2 separate regions of the Homo sapiens genome follow, and region 2 is linked to region 1. The links come from fine-mapping of genetic effects on gene expression. Tissue or cell type: T cells. Region 1 holds a variant in brackets; the other region holds the start of a gene. All regions are shown on one strand. Distances are from middle to middle.

Evidence for each region. PIP is the estimated chance that this variant, and not a neighbour inherited with it, causes the effect.
Region 2: PLEKHG5 starts here. The variant in region 1 is fine-mapped to the expression of PLEKHG5 in T cells (TOPMed, PIP 0.95).

The regions. Positions count from the first base shown.
Region 1 is chr1:6,528,405-6,536,404 of GRCh38, reverse strand. NOL9 (nucleolar protein 9) reads left to right here. Exons shown (of 12, transcript NM_024654.5): 7 at 2,964-3,125; 8 at 3,645-3,942; 9 at 4,326-4,437; 10 at 7,234-7,411. Among named protein-coding and RNA genes, the nearest start is that of NOL9, 22 kb to the left of the region's middle. The variant A/G (reference allele first, on the strand shown) is at 4,941.
Region 2 is chr1:6,486,927-6,495,187 of GRCh38, reverse strand. It overlaps PLEKHG5 (pleckstrin homology and RhoGEF domain containing G5), which reads left to right and starts at 3,521. Exons shown (of 21, transcript NM_020631.6): 1 at 3,521-3,551. RefSeq lists silencers at 4,231-4,310, 4,371-4,460, 4,871-5,230.

The sequences.
Region 1 (8,000 bases):
ATTAGCCACCACACCTGTCTAACTTTTATTTTTTTATTTTATTTTATTTTATTTTATTTGAGACGGAGTCTCGCTCTGTCACCCAGGCAGGAGTGCAGTGGCGTGATCTCGGCTCACTGCAAGCTCCGCCTCCTGGGTTCACGCCATTCTCCTGCCTCAGCCTCCCGAGTAGCTGGGACCACAGGTGCCTGCCACCACGCCCGGCTAATTTTTTGCATTTTTAGTAGAGATGGGGTTTCACCACTTTAGCCAGGATGGTCTCGATCTCCTGACCTGGTGATCCATCCGCCTCAGCCTCCTAAAGTGCTAGGATTACAGGCGTGAGCTACCGCACCCGGCCCACACCTGGCTAATTTTTGAACAATTATTTGTAGAGGCAGTGTCTCACTTTGTAGCCCGGTCTGGACCATGCTCTTTTAATTATAACTGCTTTTGAAGTCAGAGAATGTGATACCTCCAACTTTTTTTTTTTTTTTGAGATGGAGTTTCGCTCTTGCTGCCCAGGCTGGAGTGCAATAGCACGATCTCGGCTCACTGCAACCTGTGCCTCCTGGGTTCAAGCAATTCACCTGCCTCAGCCTCCCAAGTAGCTGGGATTACAGGCACCCGCCACCATGCCTGGCTAATTTTTTGTATTTTTAGTAGAGGTGGGGTTTCACCATGTTGGCCAGGCTGGTCTCGAACTCCCGACCTCAGGTGATCCACCTGCCTTGGCCTCCCAAAGTGCTAGAATTATAGGTGTAAGCCACCATGCCCAGCTGACCCTGTCTTAAAAATAAACAAAAACAAGAAAACTTGGCTCTCATTATTCTGAACACATTAATTTATGTGTACAATATCCCTATGTATAAGCAGCCGCTCTGCCCTGCCGGCCACCTCCTAGGACCTGTCTGTCTACTGAGCTCCTCTTACGTCCTAGGTCCTGACTGCACCCTTGGCCTGGGCTCTCCAGCTGTACTGACCCTGGCTACTCCATGGCTCCATCCTTTTTTGAGCACTGTCTTAACTTTCAGGAAAAACAGGAAGTTCTGGGGTCATCTTTCACTTTCTCTTCCATAGCCTTGGAATGAGCTATTTTTCCAGAGAGCCCTGGCTCCTTTTCATGGAGAGAGATTGAAACCAGAGTTTCAGTACTGTGCACGCTTGTTGCCTCTGGTGTGTTATTGTTTCTAGATCCCCTCAGTGCACAGAGCTAGCATATATTGCATATTTAAACCCAAACATACATATGTATATGTGTATGTATGCATATAGATCTGTACTTCTGTAGATACCTTTTCTATCTGTCTCATTAAAACCAGGCACGGTGCTTCATGCCTGTAATCCTAGCACTGTGGCAGGCCGAGGCAGGCGGATCACTTGAGGTCAGGAGTTTGAGACCAACTTACTTGGCCAACATAACAAAACCTCATCTCTACTAAAAAAGTCCAAAAATTAGCCAGGTGTGGTGGCGAGTGCCTGTAATCCCAGCTACTTGGGAGGCTGAGGCAGGAGAATCACCTGAACTCGGGAGGTGGAGGTTGCAGTGAGCTGAGATTGCGCCACTGCACTCCAGCCTGGATGACAGAGTGAGACTCTGTCTCAAAAAAATAAAAAGAAAAAAGAGAGAAAGAGAGAGAGACAGAGAGCCATGAGTTTCCGACTCATCCGATTCTGGCTTAACACCCCAGGGGTCACTCTCGTTAGCCTTCTTCACTTTCATATTTGTAAGTTGGTTCTCTGGTGGGAAGAAACCTGCCTATGATTATTTACAATATATTTGCATATTTGCTCAGTCTTCTCTGAACTATACAGGCCACTCCCTCTGCTGCTGGCTACCCCACATCCCTGCCCTTACTGGCCCCAACCTTGAAAGGAGCCTCGCTGGCTGAATTCGCAGCTCCCATCATAGTGGCCACTCTGACGGTTGAGTGGCCTTGCTGCAATCACACTGACCCAGGCCATCTCCCTTCTGACCCTGTCACACACAGTCCTGGTCACTGGCCTGCTGACTGTGCAGACCCTGCCCTCATTGAACTGCTCAGCTCCCTGTCCCTGGCCAGAGGAGATATGTCATGATTAGGAGTGTGAACGCAGGAGCCGGCCCCTCTGGGTTTAAACCAGCTTGCTGTTTACTGACTGGCTGACCTTGTTCAAGTTGATCTCTTTCCCAATTTCCTCATCTGTAAAAATGAGGATACTACTACCTGCCACAGGGTTATGAAAATTAGAGGCTCTTGGCTGGGCATGGTGGCTCACGCCTGTAATCCCAGCACTTTGGGAGGCTGAGGTGGGTGGATCACCTGAGGTTGGGAGTTCAAGACCAGCCTGACCAACATGGAGAAACCCCGTCTCTACTAAAAATACAAAATAAGCCGGGCATGGTGGCACATGCCTGTAATCCCAGCTACTTGAGAGGCTGAGGCAGGAGAATCGCTTGAACCTGGCAGGCGGAGGTTGCTGTGAGCCAAGATCGCACCATTGCAGTCCAGCCTGGGCAACAAGAGTGAAACTCTGTCTAAAAAAAAAAAAAAAGAAAGAAAATTAGAGGCTATATGTGAAGGGCCTCTTAGAACAGAGTCATTGCTGTATTGCTATAAGACACACATGGCTATTCATTGCCCTTTCATTGGGATAGAAGCCCTGTGAGGGTGGGGATGTTTGTCTGTTTTGTTTACAGATATGTCCCAAATCACTGGAACAAGCCCAGCAGTTAGCAGATTTGTGTGTTCGCTGAATGAATGGCCATGTTAGGACATAATTGGCATTAGCCATTTATGTGAAAGTGAGCATGTCTTTGTGTTAAGTTGAAAGCTTAGATTTCCAAAAAATGGAATTAGAGTGTTCCTGTAGGTAGGATGGTCTCAGATTTCCTAAGGTTCTTTGTCAGTGATAACGGCTGAAACAAAACCCTCACCACCTTTTAAGTAGCCAGGATTGATCACTCACCTTACTCATCTGATTACTCATCTTTATCTTTTTAGGACCACCTTTCACTCACCTGAGGACTCCACAGAAGATGGTATATTATGGGAAACCTTCTTGTAAAAACAACTATGAGAATTATATTGACATAGTGAAATATGTGTTCAGCGCTTACAAGAGAGAGTCCCCTCTCATCGTCAACACTATGGGATGGGTTTCAGGTAAGCCTGCATGTGCACATCTGCAAGGGAAGGACAGGCAGTGTGAGTACTGTTGGTTTCAGACATTCACGTTAAAGCCCAGTGTTTTGTTTTTTGTTTTTAATTGAGGCAGGGTCTCACTCTGTCGCCCAGGCTGGAGTGCAATGGCGTGATCTCGGCTCACTGCATCCTCTGCCTCCCAGGCTCAAACAATCCTCCCACCTCAGCTTCCAGAGTAGCTGGGACCACAGGCGTGTGCCACTCTGCCCAGCTAATTTTTGTAGTTTTAGTAAAGATGGGGTTTTGCCATGTTGGCCATGCTGATCTTGAACTTCTGGCCTCAAGTGATCCGCCCACCTTGGCCTGTCAAGGCATGCTGGGATTACAAACATGAGCCACTGTGCCCAGCCGAAGTCCAACGTATTGATGGTTTCTTTGTCTTAGAACAAATGCATCCATTTGTCGTAGGAGCATGTCACTGTTCTTGAGCGCGTCACTGTTCTTGAGTGTATCAGCTGTGCTAATGTCTCTTCCCCACAGACCAGGGGCTCCTGCTTCTCATTGATCTGATCCGATTGCTGTCTCCCAGCCACGTGGTTCAGTTCCGCTCTGACCACAGTAAATATATGCCAGACCTTACCCCGCAGTATGTAGATGACATGGATGGCTTGTACACAAAAAGCAAGACCAAGATGAGAAATCGACGTTTCAGACTCGCAGCATTTGCAGATGCTTTGGAATTTGCTGATGAAGAAAAAGAGAGTCCAGTTGAGTTCACTGGACATAAACTGATAGGTGTTTATACAGACTTTGCATTCAGAATAACTCCAAGAAATAGGTAACTAACCCTCATTTGGCTGAAGAATTATTTTTCCTTCCGTCGAAAAAGACCTGCCATTCTCAATTCCTCTAAAGGCCTGAGTCCTCTAAGATCTTCAGGTCCCTGTCACAGCTGTGCATGCACAAAGACGAACCAGTTGTTTTCTGAACTGTTATGTTCCCAGTGGAAATATCCAGAAGTGTCCCCTACCTCTGGCTGCCAGCAACTTTGACTTAAAGGAGAGTCTTTACACTTCCTGTTTTTCCAGTTGGGGTCCGTCAAGGGGGGGCAGTGTTGGAAAGCCCAGTACTCTGTGAAAATGTGACCTCTGTGATGACAGGTGTGGGAGGTGGCCGTTGAGGGTTAAATGTCTACTTACCTTGTTGTGATTTGCCTTTCAGAGAGTCACATAACAAAATTCTTCGAGATCTGTCCATCTTGAGTTACCTTAGCCAGCTGCAGCCCCCGATGCCCAAACCACTTTCTCCTTTACATAGCCTGACACCCTATCAGGTAATCTGAACTTACAGGAGAAATTGTCTTCATTTTGTTACACACTTGTGTGGTTTTCTGTGTGCTGGGCGCTCTCCTAACCACTACATAACTCCTCGCTCATTTAATCCTCAGAACATCCCAGTGACACAGCTTGTGTCGTTATTCCCACTTTACAGATGGGGAACCTGAGGTGTAGAGAGGCTGAGGGACTCAGCACTAGGGGCTGGGCTGGCATGCAGGCCCAGGCAGTTCAGCTCCAGTGACTGCTCTTAGCCATGGTTCTGTACTGAGGATAAGTGTGGGTCCGTGCTGGGTTTGAATGTCCCATCTGGTCGCAGGGGCTGCTCCAGCACTTCCACTTTTCCGCTGTAGAGCAGGGGTGCTACTGGGCCTCAGAGAGTGAACGTGTGGATTCAGGGAGCGTTCACAGTGGAACCTGGCACCCAGAGAACACTCTTAAAGTACTTCACATTAGCCGGGCGTGGTGGCTCACACCTGTAATCCCAGCACTTTGGGAGGCC[A/G]AGGCGGGCAGATCACGAGGTCAGGAGATCGAGACCATCCTGGCTAACACAGTGAAACCCCCTCTCTATTAAAAATACAAAAAATTAGCCAGGCATGGTGGCACGTGCCTATAGTCCCAGCTACTCAGGAGGCTGAGGCAGGAGAATCGCTTGAACCCAGGAGGCGGAGGTTGCAGTGATCTGAGATCATGACACTGCACTCCAGCCTGGGTGACAGAGCGAGATGCCGACTTAAAAGAAAAAAAAAAGAAGTACTTCACATTACTGTCATCAAAAGTAGATTCCACCACCAGAGTATTTGCAACTTGGAATCCAGGCTGCTAATAATTGTTTTGGGAGGAAAGCATGATAGTGTTAGGATTCGGGATGATGAAAAAACAAAACTAGCGGCAGGTAGCACTTCTGAAATGCTTACTCTGTGCAGTACTCTGTTCTAAGCCTGTGTAACTCCACTACTTACCGTGGTCCTGTTATTATCCCCATTTTACAGATGGTAAAAGCAAGGCCAGGGACTGGGAGTCAGCTTGCCCAAAATGGTGTAGTCAAAGTTGAGGCTAGGACTGAAGCCGCAGGACGCCCGACTCTGAGCCCAGGTCTGTGCTCTGCCGCACAGCATGTCCGGTTTTGAGCGCTTGCTCTGTGCCAGGCACTCTGCGAAGCATGGAGGGGCTCAGTGACTTCATGGCCACCCTGTGAGAGAAAGGCTAAGACGTGCTTCATTTACAGCTTTGAGCATTGGGCATTGTCAGGTGGAAGCATTTGCCTTAGGTCACATAGGCTGAAGCGGCAGACCTGGGCAGCAAGGATATGTTTCTTGGGCCCGATGGTGGTGTGGGCTCCAGGCCTCTGAGTTATCTCCCCTGGAGAGTCTAAGTCACTTTGCTAATGGGGTTTTAGTTTATGGGTCATTTATTCATCTGGAGATGCTCTTTAAGTGAATGTGAGATTTATCTGCCAATACTTAAATCTGTCTTGTATTACTTCACATTTATTTATTTATTTATCTTTTTGAGATGGAATTTCACTCTTGTTGCCCATGCCAGAGTGCAATGCCACGTGCTTGGCTCACTGCAACCTCCGCCTCCCGGGTTCAAGCGATTCTCCTGCGTCAGCCTCCCGAGTAGCTGGGATTACAGGCACGTGCCACCACGCCCAGCTAATCTTTTGTATTTTTAGTAGAAACGGGGTTTCACCATGTTAGCCAGGCTGGTCTCGAACTCCTGACCTCAGATGATCCACCCGCCTCAGCCTCCCAAAGTGCTGGGATTACAGGCGTGTCCTCTGCACCCGGCCCACATTTATTTTTTAAATTTAAGTGTTTTTTGTTTCTTTTTTTTTGGAGACAGAGTCTCTCTCTTTCACCTAGGTTGAAGTGCAGTGGCACAATTTTGGCTCACTGTAATCTCCACTTTGTGGGTTCAAGTGATTCTCAATTCTAGTACCTCAGCCTCCCAAGTAGCTAAGACTAAAGGCATGCGCCACCACACTTGGCTAAATTTTTGTATTTTATTTATTTATTTATTTTTAATTTTTGTTTTTGAGATGGAGTCTTGGTCTGTCATTCAAGCTGGAGTGCAGTGGCACGATCTCAGTTCACTGCAACCTCCGCCTCCTGGGTTCAAGTGAGTCTTGTGCCTCAGCCTCCCAAGTAGCTGGGACTACAGGCACGCACCACCATCCCTGGCTAATTTTTGTATTTTTAGTAGAGACAGGGTTTCGCCATGTTGGCCAGGCTGGTCTCAAATTCCTGACCTCAAGTGATCAACCCACCTTGGCCTCCCAATGGGTTGAGATTACAGGCGTGAGCCACTGCGCCCAGCCTAAAGAATTTTTTATTTTATTTTTTATTTTTATTTTTTATTTATTAATTTTTTTTTGAGACCGAGTCTTGCTCTATCACCCAGGCTGGAGTGCGGTGGCAGGATCTCTGCTCACTGCAACCTCCGCCTCCCAGGTTCAAGCGATTCTTCTGCCTTAGCCTCCCGAGTAGCTGGGATTACAGGCGCCTGCCACCATGCCTGGCTAATTTTGTGTTTTTTGTAGAGACAAGGTTTCACCACGTTGGTCAGGCTGGTCTTGAACTCCTGACCTCGTGATCCACCCGCGTCGGCCTCCCAAAGTGCTGGGATTACATGCGTGAGCCACTGTGCCTGGCTGTTTTTATTCTTTAGAGATACTTTTGAGTAGGCACTTTGGCAGACCTATCTTTAGATAGCTGGTTAATCTAGTTGTAGAAATTAAGTGGTCTTTCAAAGTAGCCATGAATAGAGTGAGATGCAAATTCATTTTCCAGGTCCCTTTCAATGCAGTCGCACTCCGGATTACCCACTCTGATGTCGCCCCTACCCATATACTATATGCTGTAAACGCCAGCTGGGTTGGTCTTTGCAAGATCCAGGATGACGTCAGAGGATACACGAATGGGCCCATCCTGCTTGCCCAGACTCCAATCTGTGACTGCTTGGGCTTTGGTGAGTCTGAGAGTAAAACATATCCATAAACCTACTGAAAAGGATCCACTGCTTCAACTGTAGATGACTGGTCTTGACCTTGTAGCTGTGTCTAAGCTACAGAGGTCAGAGAACCCCCACTCATCTATATAGCACGCCTTAGGGGCTGGAGGCCAGGAAGGAAGCAGCTATTTCTCTGCTTCGTCTGCCAGCTCCTGTAAATGTAGGCTTCCCAAGGGCCTGGGCTTGGCCCTCCTCTTCTTGCTCGACACTTCTCCCCTAGGCTGTCTCAGTCACTGCTGGGTTCTAAATCCATTTTAGGCGTTGCCTTTTTGCAGTGTCCTCCAACACAGCTGTTCGTCTGCGTTCCAAACCCATCTTGTCAGTGTGCATCTTCACTTGAGTGCCTGACTGGCATGCAGACCTGGGATCCCCAGGACCCTCCTGCCCTCACCCTCTCCTCCTTGCCCCAGGCTCGTACTTGGTCCATTGGAAGATTCACTCTGACATCCAGGTCAGACCCTGGCCCCTCCTTGGCATCCCCTAGCCTTCATTTGGTACTTTCAGCCCATTAGATGGTCTGGTGGCTTCTCTCTTCAAAATATGTCAG
Region 2 (8,261 bases), 41 kb after region 1:
AACAAATTGGCCTCAGCTCCCCCCAATATACATCCTGCCAGAGGCCTGCGGAGCCCCGAGGCTTTTGCCTGACCTGAAGGGGCGGCTGGGGCAATAAGGCACACTGTCCCAGCCCCTCCTCTGGGCAGCTGCTCTCAGGGGGGGTCCTCAAGCTGCTCAGGCAGGGGCAGGGGTGGGATGGCCCAGCCTTCATAGAGGTGAGGCCTGGGAGAAGAGAGCTGGTCTCAGAGTGGGTATGGTCCCTCTGCAGCCTCCAGACCTCACCTCCAGCCCTGGCCTGCCTGGAACTTGGCACAGCTGACATTGGCATCAGCTGATGAGGGTCACCCAGCGTGCACGGGGAGAGTCTGGGCCCTGTCACTACTGGGACGCCCTTTGGGACAAATGGCACAGACTCACTGTAGGGGCAGAAATGCCTGAATTATCAGAGGCATAGAGAGCCAGTCAGGGAGGGCATCCTGGAGGAGGGGGCCTTTAATGGATGTGAAAACATGGATAGACAGAACAGAGGCAAGGGCAGTCCAGGAAGGGAGAGGCAGTGGTGGAGAGGAGGTGCGGGGCACTCAGATTTGGTAAGAGAAACAAAGAATAACATTGTCGATGATGATAATAATAACCACTACTGGCTGGGTGTGGTTGCTCATACCTGCGATCCCAGCACTGTGAGAGGCTGAGGCAGGAGGACTGCTTTAGCCCAGGAGTTTGAGGCCAACCTGGGCAATATAGGGAGACCTCTCTCTACTAAAATTAAAAAAAAGGCCTGGCGTGGTGGCTCACACCTGTAACCCCAGCACTTTGGGAGGCCAAGGCGGGCAGATTGCCTGAGCTCAGGAGTTCGAGACCAGCCTGGCCAACATGGCGAAACCCCATCTCTACTATAAATATAAAAATTAGCTGGGCATGGTGGTGGGTGCCTGTAATTCCAGCTACTCGGGAGGCTGAGGCAGGAGAATTGCCTGAACCTGGGAGGCAGAGGTTGCAGTGAACTGAGATCATGCCATTGCACTCCAGCCTGGGCAACAAGAGCAAGACTCCGTCTAAAAAAAAAAAAAAAAAAAAAAAAAAAAAATTAGCCAGGTGTGGTGGTGGGTACCTGTAATTCCAGCTACTGGGGAGGGTGAGGTGGGAGGATCATTTGAGCCTGGGACATTGAGGCTGCAGTGAGCCGTGATTGTGCCACTGCACTGCAGCCTGGGCAACAGAGCAAGACCCTGTCTCAAAAATAACAGGCCAGGCGCAGGGGCTCATGCCTGTAATCCCAGCACTTTGGGAGGCCAAGGTGGGCAGATCACTTGAGGTCAGGAGTTCGAGACTAGTCTGGGCAACATGGTGAAACCCCATCTCTACCAAAAATATAAAAAATAATTAGCCGGACATGGTGGCACACACCTGTAATCCCAGCTACTTAGGAGGCTGAGGCAGAAGAATCGCTTGGACCCTGGAGAAGGAGGTTGCAGTGAGCTGAGATCACGCAATTGCACTCCAGCCTGGGCAACAGAGCGAGACTCTGTCTCAAAAAACACCCAATAATAATAATAATAACAATTATTGCTGACCGAACATGTTTACATGCCAGGCGGGGCGTTAGGCCCTCCTGCTTGTCTCAGTGAAGCTTCTTGAGACCCTCAGGAGAACAGCGTTATTCTTATGACCACATGACTTGTAAGGAAACGGAGGCCCAGAGAGGTAGAGGAACTTGCCCACATCACACAGCATGATCGTCAGAGCCTGGCCTGCGTGAGGCTTGTCTGATCAAGAGCCCTATTCTTACTCTCCAGGATGTGACTAGCGTTTTGAAGGAGATGACTTCATTTATTCATTTACCAGACCAGCTCTGAGCATCTGTCGGTGCCAGGCCCAGTTCTAGGCCCAGGAGATCTCCAGAGAACAAAGGGGATGCCCTCCTGGAGGTGACATTCTAGCTGTGCTGGGAGGAAGGAAGGGAAGTGACCCTGGCTGGCCAAACTTCCCCCCAGGCTGCCCTGGCAAAGGACCAATTTCAGGCAGGGCTGGACCCTTCGGCTTCTGGGCCCACCCTTGATGTTTTATTTGAGGCTCTCCTGGGTGCTGGAGCTTCTGAGATGAATTTGCCATCTGTCCCCTACCTCCTGCCCCTGGAGTTCCCACTGGGAGGAGGGCTAACCAGGATGGGCTTCCTGGAGGCAACTGGAGTCCTGAGGATTAAAGAGGTACTGAGATGGAGGACAGCTGAGTGAGCAGGGGGGGACATTGGGGGCTATAAGGGGCAAGCGAGGCCAGGGGGCACAGGGAGAAGGGGACGGGAGGAGGGGGAGGCAGGCTGCACTAGGAGCACCTGCATGTCCAGATGAGGGGTCTGGACTGTGTGTCATGGAGACCCCAGGAGAGAAATGGCCCCTCCCCAGGATGAAGATATGTAGAGCAGTCCACACCTCTGAGCTCCAGGATCAAACCTACTTTTTTCCAGCTGTGCGACCCTGGGGAAGTCACTACACTTCTCTGAACCCCAGGTTCCTCATCTGGAAAATAACCCGGCAGCGAGGATTAAAAGAGGCCCATATATAACATGCTTAGCATAGAGCCTAGCACAGCGTAGGTGTGCAAGGTGTCCTGGGAGTGGGGGTAACAAAGTCACCTCTAGACTTTGGGTGTGCCCTCCGTACCTGCCCTGGGATCTGAGACCTCCCCAGGCTCCATCCCAGCTTCTTGCACACAGGTGGAGCTGTGAGTTTGGGGAGATGGAGAAAGGCCGGGAGATCAAGGCAGACTAATGATATTGTGGGTTCCCCCTGCCCTCCTGTGAGGTGGCCACGGGACAGTGTGTGGACTCCCCAGCTCCTTGCTGGGCTCCACTGGGCACTGTTCGAGGTCTAGTCAGGGCGTCCCAGGTCACAAGGGGGCATGGAGGAGGACACTTGTGGCCCTGGGCCACAGGGGACATTGGGCACCACATGTGAGGGTGTTTATCATGGAGGAGGTAGTGATTCCAGCAGCCGCCATTGATCCAGCACGTACTGTATGCCAGGCCCTGCCTTAGCGCCTGGCACAGAAACCTCATCTGGCCGCCTCCCCCGCTGCGGTGGGGCCTACCCCATCTCCGTTTCCTAGAGAGGGCCCTGCAGAGTGGCGAGGTAAAATGACTTGCCAAGCAAGGCAAGATCAGGACTCAAACCAGGCCTCTCTGTCAGAGCCTCCCATTTCCTCAGAACTCTCAGGAGGAAAGGGAGGTGAATTTTTCTGCACAGCTCCCAAAGGCCTTGACAGGGAGGTGGGGTTCAGCACACTACAGGAAAGAGTTTCCAGCAGCTGGAGCTATCCCCGAAGTGGAGGTAGTGAGCACCCCATCACTAGACATATGCAAGAAGAGACAGAAAGGGAAGCGTAGAGGGGATTGCAGTGTGGAGTGGAGGTTGGATGGGAGGACTTCAGAGTTCCCTTGCAGCTTAACAATGGCCTGTGAGGTGGCAGGGATGAGTCAGGGTATGCGTGTGTGGAGGGAGGGGTGGTGAGATGAAGACCAGGGAGAGGAAAGGGTGGACCTGAGGCCCCCATGGAGAAGGGACGGGCAGGATGTGAGTAATGGGAGAGGCAATCACCTATTCTCCTGGGCAATGCTTTGGGGGTGAGCAGCGGCAGACCAGGATGCCCCAGGGAATGGCCAGGTTTGGGCCATCTCTGGAAGTGACTGGTCCCCGGAGAGAGGTGGTGGGGCTATCTGCAGCTGAAGAAACGGGCAGGGCCAGAGAAACAATGCAAGGGGACTCCTGGGTTTTGGCTAAGTAGTTTTGGGGGAGCAGGTGAAGACGTGGGGATCCCTGGCCCAGCCAGGAGCTGCCCTAGTATAGGCCCAGCCCCAAGGGTTGTGTGGGGCAGTCTGGAGGTTTTGGCCTGGGAAGGGGTCGGGGGAAGGCTGTATAAAAAGCTTGAAAGTGCGGAACAGGTTGGTGGACCTGAACTCCACCTCCTCGAGTGGGCCCCCTGTATCCACACCCTTCCCAGTCCTGAGCCCAGAGTTATTCTAAACTCCCGCTGCTGGGAGAGGGGAACTGGGAACCACTAAATGGCAGAACAGCACCCTTTTCCGGCCATATCACCTGGGCCAGAAAAAAAAAAAAGAGGGGGCCCAGAGAAAAGCGGGCTGTTTCTGGGGCACCGCGGAGGCCGCAGATCAGAATCCAGCTTTTTACAATAGAGCGGAAGCGAACCTGGCTCAGGGCGATTCCGGGGCGGGCTAGGCCTGCGGGTCTCTCTGCCTGGTCCCCCGGGGCTTTTCTGTCGCGCGGAGGCTTCCTGTCGCGGGCCCTGGTCCCCCCTAGCCCCCTTCCGGGATGGGCGAGCTCCCGTCTTCAAGCCCAAGTTAATGACCAGGGACTTTGAACTTTTTGGAGATCTGCAAAGGGCTGGCCCCTCGGGGACAGTGACGCCCCCCACCCCCTCCCCTGAGCCCGGATCCTGGATTACCCCAAGCCACCGCCCGGCCTCCAGCCACCTCCCTGGCTCCGGCGCGGGGCCCTTCCTGGGACCCCTCCTCTCCCCGGTCCCAGCCGGGCGGCGCCGTTGGTACATCCCGGCCGGTCCAGGTGGTAGCGCCCGCGCGGCTACCGTAATTCCCCTACGTCCCGCGCCCCAGTTTGCGCTGAGTCGACTGAGCCCGTCCCGCGGCTCCCGTCCCCCTCTCCCCGCGCGCCCCATGAGGCTTTGGCAGTCTCGGCCCGAGCCTTAGAGCCTTAGACACCGGGGAGGAGACCCTGGTCCTGTTCCTAGGTGAGTCGCGGGGAAGTGGGAGCTGCGCTCCGGACGGGGGGTGGGACTAGGCGCCAGGACCCCCCTAAACCGATGGACAGAACCCGGATTCGAGATTCCCACGTAGTGCCAGGCCTGTGGGTGGGTACAGGGTCCTCACCAGCTGTATCTCCATTTACGTGAGGGTGGAATGGGTTCAAGCTCCCGCCCCCATCACAGTGTCTCTAGGGTGGGTCGGCTCGGAGATAGGGCCGTGAGGAGTCTATGGGACCCTGGCCCCGGTATGGGGGGTATTGGCGGGGCAGGGGGATCCTGGAGGGGCCCGGGCGCGCGGCGTGGCTGGGAGGCTCAGCCGATCCTCCCCATCTGGCCAGTCCCGGAGTCGGTCCCAGGCGGAAAAGCCCTCTCGAGGCCGGCAGGGGGCGCCAGAGGCTGCGCCTCGGGCAGTCTGAGCAGACCCAGGCACCCACTTAGGGGTGGGGGATGCGGGAGACCCGTGAATCCGGGGAGGCCCTGGCCTGCCTTGGTGGAAGTCTGGGAAATGGAGGCCAAGAGGTCCCCTGCAGATTCCTTAGTAACTCCTCAAGTTGAGGGAGCTCGGGGGTATTTTACCATTCTCCTGCCCTTTAGCCGGGGTCCGGGCACACACTAGGACCTGGCAGCCATCCCCAGATACTGAATTCTATGCCCTCTTGGCACAGGTGGGCAAATTGAGGCCCAGTAGGGGAAGGGTGGGGGAACGTAGGCTCCAGACCAGGTCTTCTGAAGCCCAGGCAGGTGCCCTCTTTCCCCCGCTCCCTACCAAGGAGGCTTCTAAGTTGCACCGGGGAAGGGCTTGCTAGTCCAGGTGCTCCGAAGACACACGCTGGGGTCTGGGGCTGGGAACTGCAGAGGCTGGGCAGGAGGGGATGTTCACAGACTGCAGCCCCTCCCTCTTTCTCTAGCACTGGGTCCCAGCCTTGGGCATACTAGCCAGGACCGCTCCCTGGGGAGGAAGGGGCCTTCCTGGCTTCCAGGGCCCGTGCGGTGGGCTTAGCCTGGGGAGAGGTTTTCTGTGTCCCTGCCATCTGCCCGGCACAGGGCAGGGCCTTAGGTCAGGCTCTGACTCCAGGTGAGCCTCAGAACCCAAGGGGTGATGGGTGAGGCCTGGGCCTAGGGGAAAGGAGGGTGGGTAGGCCGGGTGGAGCGTAGAGAGCCGCCTGGCAAAGCCACCCCGCCCTGGCTGGCCTGCCCATGCATGCAGTCTCCACCCCTGGATTTCTAAGGTGTTGGGTGGGGCCTTGGGACTAGCAGGCTCCCAGGGGAGCTTAGCCTTGGTGGGAATTCCTGGCAAGGACATCCCTCCAGCCAGAGAGCTCGGACTCCTGGTTCCAGGCCCGTCTGCTGTCGGCAGAGCCTGGAGCTGGCCCCAGACCTGCGTCCTTTCCTGGACAGGGAAGTCCCTCTCCCACCCAGACCAGGCTGGGGCCCCAGCTCGTTGTGGGGCAGGGATGCCTGGGGGATCCCTGGTTTCCCATCTGCTTTTCTGGGGCTGGGGGAGGTGATACTGAGGGAGAACAGCCGGGTGCGGGGGTCCTGCCTTGGAGACTCCATTATTCATCAGCCTCCGCATCTGGTTTCTGGGTATCAGTTTCAACAAGCCGGCCCTGACTCACAAGCCTGGAGCTGGGGCTGGGCTGGGGAGGGGCTCCCTCCCCAGGGAGTTGGGGGCCAGGACTTCTTGGGCCTGCCCCTGAGCTGTTTCAGCTCCCTGCTGTGGAGAGGAGGTGGGAATGCAGGAGCCTGCCCAGGCCCACCCCACTGCCCTGGTACAGGGGCTGGGGGCTCCTTTCTGCTCTGCACTCTTGCCCCTAAGGAACAGTCCCCCACCCTTGCTGAGTACCCAGGCAGCAGCCTCACTCAGGGATGGCCAGGGCCCAGGCACTCAGGTGACCTCTGGTGATCCGCCCTGACCCAGCCCTGGTGGTCTCCACTTGATGCAACCTGGTTACCCCACACCGGTGGGCTCCCCACAAGCTGGCTTTGGGATCTGCCGTGTCTTCAGGAAGGCAATCTCCAGGGCCCTGTTGCCCAAACCAACATTCAGCTGTCTTCAGGCCCCACGCCTGCCCTGTGCCTGAGGCACCCATTTCCCTACGTAGCAGCAGCTGGTGACTTTGGGGCAAGTCAGTTGACACAGGCCTTAGTTTCTCTATCTGTTAAATGGGGATTGTAACAGTATCTCCTCCTAAGAGTCTTTGAGAAGAGCGAATGGGATTCACTGCCTGGAACTCCCACGATGGGGTGGCACATGGAATGCTCAGTGAAATGCAGTTATCTGCCTACAGGACAGTATGGGGGTGGAGGTCTGGGGCAAGACCACCCGATTTGAAGTAGGAACTCACCTGCCCAGGGCCAGCAGGCCCAAGGTCATGGATACTAGGAGGAGGAAGAGACCTTCGGTCTGGCAGTGGGGAAGGCTCTGTTGACTGTCGGCCACAGGAAGGGATATCCTGGCCGAGCCCTTTCCTGTCCCCATGTCCTTCTGTGGCATGAAGGCCCTTCTGCCTTCATCTGTTCACTGATCTCATCCCCACCAAGCGCACCTACTGTGCACCAGGACTGTTCTAAGTGCCGAGGACACAGTGAGATGCAGACGGCCAAGGCGCTGGCTTCTGGAGAGGACAGTCTGGTAGGGAAGAATGATGATAAAAAAGTGAACAAAGAAATGAATTACAGGTAGTAATAAACACTAAGAAGGAAATAATTTAACTTAAAGGAATTGAGAGTGGGAGGGTAAGGGTGGTTTATTTTAAGATGAGGGAAAAGGACGTCTTAGAGGTAACATTTAAGTTGGGGCCCGGTGTCAGCTGTTTCAAGATAGGGTGCGTGGAATTCCAGACAGAAAATACAGAGGAGAAGGCCCTGAGCTTGGCGAGCTGTAGGGAGAGAAGGAAGACCGGCAGGTGGACCCTGTGCGGACCAGCTGGGAGGGAGGCGGGAGCCCGGCCATGGTGGGATTTCACTATAAGCAAGATGGGAAGTTTTAGTTTTCAAAACTCTGCCTGTTGGCCGGGTGTGGTGGCTCATGCCTGTAATCTCAGCACTTTGGGAGGCCAAGGTGGGGGTGGATCACTTGAGATCAGGAGTTAGTGACCAGCCTGGTCAACATGGCGAAACCCCATCTCTACTAAAATACAAAAAGTAGCTGGGTGTAGTGGCGGGCGCCTGTAATCCCAGCTACTGGGGAGGCTGAGGCAGAAGAATCACTTGAACCTGGGAGGTGGAGGTCGTAGTGAGCTGGGATCATGCCACTGCACTCCAACGTGAGTGACAGAGCAAGATTCCGTCTCAAAAACAAACAAACAAAAAACAAAAACACAACTCTGCCTGTGGTGTAGACAGTGGGTGACCTGGGCTTTGGGAGTGGAGACAGCCCTGGAAGTCTCCCAGCCTCTAATAAAACGCTGCTGCCCTCCCAAAGCCATCTCACGGACCCTGGCCCCCTTCCCACCCTCTTTCCCCATGGAACCAGGTGGAGGAGGAGCAATTAGGGGTGG